Linked DNA regions of Homo sapiens: region 1 is linked to region 2. Evidence: fine-mapped QTL for protein levels in blood plasma. Region 2 holds a variant in brackets. A gene starts in the other region. All regions are shown on their reverse strands. Region 1 holds the start of FNDC1 (fibronectin type III domain containing 1). Region 2 overlaps PCSK6 (proprotein convertase subtilisin/kexin type 6).

What was found. PIP is the posterior inclusion probability: the model's chance that the variant is causal. The UK Biobank Pharma Proteomics Project read protein levels with antibody pairs (Olink). The fine-mapping took linkage between variants from a reference panel, not from the people measured, so its PIPs are less certain.
Region 1: FNDC1 starts here. The variant in region 2 is fine-mapped to the plasma level of the FNDC1 protein (UK Biobank, PIP 0.96).

What each region holds. Positions count from the first base shown.
Region 1 is chr6:159,167,621-159,170,499 of GRCh38, reverse strand. It overlaps FNDC1 (fibronectin type III domain containing 1), which reads right to left and starts at 1,100. Exons shown (of 23, transcript NM_032532.3): 1 at 795-1,100. The coding sequence starts at 903. It overlaps FNDC1-AS1 (FNDC1 antisense RNA 1), which reads left to right and starts at 493. Exons shown (of 4, transcript NR_121668.1): 1 at 493-688; 2 at 1,739-1,967. RefSeq lists an enhancer at 1-245 and a silencer at 1,052-1,221.
Region 2 is chr15:101,450,256-101,453,154 of GRCh38, reverse strand. The region is part of intron 1 of PCSK6 (proprotein convertase subtilisin/kexin type 6); the gene reads left to right. Among named protein-coding and RNA genes, the nearest start is that of PCSK6, 38 kb to the left of the region's middle. RefSeq lists enhancers at 97-391, 1,408-2,141. The variant A/G (reference allele first, on the strand shown) is at 1,587.

The DNA.
Region 1 (2,879 bases), not on the chromosome of region 2:
TGAAAACCTCGCCACAAACTTGTCTCTCTCTGCAGGAAGCTTGCAAGAAATCTGACAGGAGCGCGCTAGCATTTTCTGAAAAGCATTGCTCTCAAAGGAAGCATCCATCCTGGCTGCAGCCTCAGCCATTGGGGAAGGGCGAGTTTCTCTGGAATCAGCTTTCTCATTTCCCTCTCCCTCCTCTCAAGACAAACATTTTCTCCCAGCTTGAACGTTCCCCCCGGGCGCGCGGGCCTCCTGCCGCCTGGAGCCGAGCTGGCACTGGAGCGCTTCTCCTCTGGAGCGCAGAGGCACCCGACGCCCTGCGGCAGCTCGCAGCCTTTCCCCCACGACCTTCTAGAACAGCCCTGCTCTGCCTCCCTCCGGTCTCCCGAGTGCGCCCGTCATCCTGCCTCGCGAGAGGTGAACGCGGAGAAAGTAGGATGACCACCTACGCTCCCGAGAAATTCTGGGCAAAGAAAGGCATTACCCCAGTCCGCACGCTGAAAGTCGCCTTTCTTTTCCTTTTTTCCCCGCTGTGCCTGAATCTCCCGGGACACTTAGACGGCTGGAGCCTCCCGACTCCAAGGCGGGCGACGGCAAAGTTAAACGCCAGCGCGCTGCGGTCCCCGGGCACCGAGGCGTCCCCGCTCCCGCCACCCACACAGGGCGCCAAGTGCCCCGACCCGCGAGTGACGAGGACGCACAGGCTAGTGACACGACCCGTAGCCAGCACTGAGCGGGACGACGGGGCCCGAGCGCAGGAGGGTGCGCGGGGAGCTGAGGAGCGCCGGGGGCCCGGGCGCGGCGCGTACCTGAGGCCGCCGCCGAGGAGGCGACGGGGAGCAGCGCGGCCAAGAGCAGCAGCGCCGCCCAGGACAGCCGGCGCGGCGCGCGCAGGGTCGCCCCGGCCTCGGGGGCCATCGAGAGCCCGGGGTGGGCCGGGGCTGGGTGCTTGCGGCTGGCAGGGGGGCGCTGGCCGGAGTCTGGGGAGTGCCGAGGCGCCGCCGTCGGGTCCCCGCCGCCGTCCGTCTGTTCTGCGCGCTCTGCGCGGTGCCCGCCGCGCCCCTGCCCCGCGGCGATCGCTCCCGGCCGCACACCGGCAGCCGCGCTCCGCCACTGAGGCCGCCGACCTCCCGCCGAGCCTTTTAGCTGCGCTCGGGCGCCCCCTGCCGGTGTGCGGGGCCGGGGCCAGGGCCGGCGGGGGCGACCCGGGCGACAGGGGCGACGGGGGCGGCGGGGCCCGGGCTGGAGGCGGGCGGGGCGCGGGACGAAGGGGCCGGAGCGCCCCGGACTGACTTAGCGGTTCTGAACTTGGGGCGGTCGCTGTGCCGGGCCAAGTGGCTGAGGAAGTTCCTCCCCTCGTCTAACCCTCTCATTTTCTGGCTGGGGAAGTCGCCCATCGCGCCGAGGAGTGCCCTTTGTCCCCTTACAGAAACACCTCTGCGCCCCAAGTGGGGACTCGGGCCGGGACCCCTCACCCGGTCCGCAGCGCTGTAGTTCCTGTGGCTAGCCCAGTCCTTCCACGTCCCTACCCGCACCCGGCGCGCCCACGTCAGGGGTTTTCAGCGTCCTTAGACCCTGCTCCGTCTGGCTGTCATTTCTAGGGCGCGCACGATGCGGGTCGAAAAGGAACCCAGTTTTCAGTGTGCCTTGTTGCCCAGGCCAAGGACTCAGCGGACCTCGCCTCTCCCTTTTCTGTAATTGTAACACTGCCCCAGGTCTCCCTATTCCTCCTTCTCCCTATTCCTCCTTCCAGCCTGGAAGCCTCGCGGCCCTCCAGATGGACTCGGAGCGCCCCTGGAGGCTACAGTGACCTAAGCTCTAGGAAGGCCGGGTCCTGGACGCCGCGTGCTGCTGTCCGCCGCCGACCGGTGTCCTCGCAGAGATAACCTGGCTGAACTCACCGCCCAGCGCTATGTCAGTTCTCCCTCATGACAACCCAAAACTTGACCGGATTTGTGTTCTGCAGAGAGGAAAAAAAAAAGGTAAATGAATTGCAAAGAGATGAAAACCAGAAATACAGTATCTCTTTGAATTTGAGCACCCAGGAAAGGTGTAAACCTACCGCCTTCCTTTCCAGGAAACTCTCCTGCTTCCCAGCAAAGGTTTTTGTTTGTTTGTTTTTCTTTTTCTTTTTGTTTTGAGACAGGGTCTCCCTCTGCCTCTGCCGCCCAGGCTGGAGTGCAGTGGTGCAGTCTTGGCTCACTGCAACCACCATATCCCAGGCTCAAGCCATTCTCCTGCCTCAGCCTCCTAAGTGGCTGGGACTACAGGTTTCAGCCACCATGCCCAGCTCATTTTTGTATGTTTTGTAGAGACAGGGTTTCCCCACGTTGCCCAGGCTGGTCTCCAACTCCTGAGCTCAAGCAATCCGCCCACCTTGGCCTCCCAAAGTGCTGGGATTACAGGCGTGAGCCACCACGCCCAGCCCAAACACACTTTCCTGCATTACTCCCTTATGTTATCATGTTTCCCCACATGCCATTTAATGGAGCTGTGTGGTTTCTGTCTCACCAGCAGCCACCCGGCTCTGCCTATTTTGGGGGAATGGTAGCTCCCTCCCCAACTCCAACCAAGTGACAGGCCCCCTCCTTACTCCCACTCCTTCCCAAAGCCCCACTTCCCCACTGGCTCAGGGCTCTGCAGTGGCCTAGACAGGGTCACTCAGAGTTGGGACTCTTCTAACACGGGCTGGTGGAAAGGTCTCTTTCTCCCATCATTCGTGGATTTGGAAGGATGGTAGCCATGGCAGGCTGAAACACAGCCTTCCTCCCCAAAAAGACATTCCTGTCCTAGTCCCTGACCCTGTGAATGTCACCTTACATGGTTTATTAAAAAGCAATTAAGCATGCTGAGACAGAGAGATTATCGTGGATTATCTGGGTGGGCCCTAATGC
Region 2 (2,899 bases):
GGCAGCTCTGAGAAGCAGTCTGTCGCCGCTTCTCAGCATGGGGTTAGAGAAAGAGTTTTGTCTTCAGTTTAGACCATACATTCTTTAAGCTTTATTTGGGAAAGGGGCTAAAAGGTCTGGTTACCTTGTTTTATTACAATTAAAAATTTCTTTTACAATTTTTTGAAACAATCACAAACTTACAGAAAAATTGAATGCACAGGGCAAAGCTCAACTGACCCAGCGCAGAGAACCTGGTGACCCCGGCCCCGCCAGCCCCAGTGCTCCAGTGTGTCCTTTGCATAAACAAGGACTGTGTCTGCAGAGCCGTGCAGCACAGCCATGGACACCGGGGAATTCCACCGGTCTTTATCAGTTGTAAGGGCCCCTAATGTAGTAACATGTTCCATCTGTGCTCTGTGGGTAACCAATCTGCCATGTCCTGTGTCTTCACTTTCCCTGAGTGGGCAGCCTGGTTATCTGCCTGGACTGACATCTGGAGTAGCCTGTTCCCACCCGTAGCCCCACGGGCTCGATTCCACGTTCCCCCATGTGAGCGCCCTCCTCACCTTCTGAGTTGCAGCAGTGCCTTGTTCTGGGCCACCCCGGATCTTCCCACCCCACACACACCATGTTCTTCCCCATATGATGACTTTAGACTGGAATTTTTCAGGAAAAAGAAGAGTTTTACAGCTTATCTTAAAATTAAAACAAAACAAAACAAAAATGAATACTCAAGAGGCATTGGATTTAGGAATCCGGTAAAACAACTAATTCCAGACAGCCGTAAAGAAACCTGCAACCAGGAAATGATTTAAAATGGAGATCTTCAAAGTCAGGATTGTAGTTTTTTCAGGTAGCTTTTTGTAGACCTTGAAAATATAGGCCGAGACCACATGTAGAAATTAAACGTTCTCATCCGAAGCCGGACCATTTGGTTTGGCGACTTAAGGGAAGAGAAAAATGAAGTTTGCTAAGTAAGAATTAATGATTTCTCAGGAATTTTTAGGATGTTGAACAGCTTAATTGCATAGTTTGGGTGGATATGTGTTGAAGAAAGTAATTTTAGGAGACTGGGAAATTGTGCAATCATCTTAACTTGGGTCAGGATTGTAATTATTGCAATAACAGAATGTTGCTATGTGTATATGTGACTGAAATGGGAAGCAGTTTTTAAAAAATGCTTTAAGAAATAACAACAAAATGTCCATTCTCTCTCTCTCTTTCTGGACTTCCTTAATTATAAATACCAGGTAATCCAGTGCTGGCTAAATATAGGTCCAGTGGTCATCTATATTTATAACGTTTTTTTCAGGCGGAAGTCACTAGAGCAATACAGAATTAATTTGGTGTGTAGGTTTTTATAGAGTCTAATTAGTTGTGTTTTTCTTAAGCAAACCAACCGGGATCAATAACATTATATAACTGAACTCGGACGACCATGACTTTTAGACATAGACTCTTCCCAGAAAGCCAAGGCCCTCGGCAGATGCCGGCCCTGAAGACAGACAAGCGGCTCCGGAAGCAGGCACGCTGCAGCTGCGGAGCGGACGGGGTTTGGAACATCTGTTTCCAGCCAAGGGCAGGCTTTGGGAGTGATAAAGTAC[A/G]GTTTTTTTTTGCAAAGTCAGAAGCCTCATCTGCAGTCCATTCATCACTGAGGCCTTGAATTGAGACATTCTGTGGCTGCTTATCAGCTGTTCCCGTGTGGAAGGGTTTGGCTGGGCTGGCCTGGGGAGGTGGGGTGGGGATTTTGCAGACTTACCAAAGTATGCGCTTAGCCGACCCACCCCCACCAACAACGCAGCCTGCTCGAGGGCTACGAACTGCACCTGTGTCTGCAGTCACGTCCATTGGAGAGCTGAGTGGGCGGGTGGACCTTTGGAACTATTTGATGTCATTTGGGGTAGATTCGGCGTGCTTCTCGGTGACTTTGCTGCAAATTAAACATGTAAAGTAGATTGGGCTTTCCTCCTCCATTCCTCAGGATCTTCAAAAAACATTTAGTCTTTTCTGGCAGAGTGAACCCGAGCTGGCAGCGCCCACTGAGATTTTGTTTGAAGCCAGCTACATTCACATTTAAAGAAACGACATGATGGGGGAGGCCCTTTCTGTAAACCCCAAGCCAGGCCTTTCCCCTCGTGAGGGTTCCTACCCCTCCCTTGTGTGGCCCTGCAAGCCGCTTCTGCTTGTCCACACCTGCGCCCGAGAGTTCTTCTCATGGCTGGTGCGTGCCATGAATGAAGGGCACTGGCCAGTGGAAGGGAGTGCCCGGCCAGGCCTTGCCTGCCTCAAGTCCTCAGACCAGAGAGGCCAGTGGGGGTCTTGCCCAGACCATACAGCCGGGAGGTGGTCTGCCTGGCTCCATAGCCTCCTCCCGACCTCACAGCTGTCCTGGGACGGGGACTGAGAGAGAGCTCAAAGACAGGACAGCAGAGCCCGGGCCAGAAGGCACTGGGGGCATGCTCACCCCACCTCTGGATGCGGGGCCTCACTGGACAGCTGGACACAGATGGGATGGGGGGAGACCTGTGTATCCTCCCAATGTCATTTGGAGACAGAAGTCTGTTCATTTCATCAGGCAGATTTCAAGCTCCTCTGTGTTCCAGACACAGCCAGGCCCTGAGAATTGACAGACAACATAGCTCCTGCCCTTGAAGGCTTATGGTGGAGGGAGGGAGGACAAAGGGTGTCATAGCCATGTCTGGGCATACAGGGCCTGGGAGGCCTGAGAGGGCTTCCTGGAGTCAGTGACAGCCGAGGGGATGGTTAAAAGCAGAGTAGGAGTTGAGGGGACTTGAGCGAGCACAGGGGTGTGAAACGGTGTGTGAGGGCAGGGCCCCTTACACTGGATGACAGAGGGCAGTGTGGGCAGGGCCAGGCCTGTGGCTGGAGAGGGGTCCTGGCTGGTCGTGTATTCTCC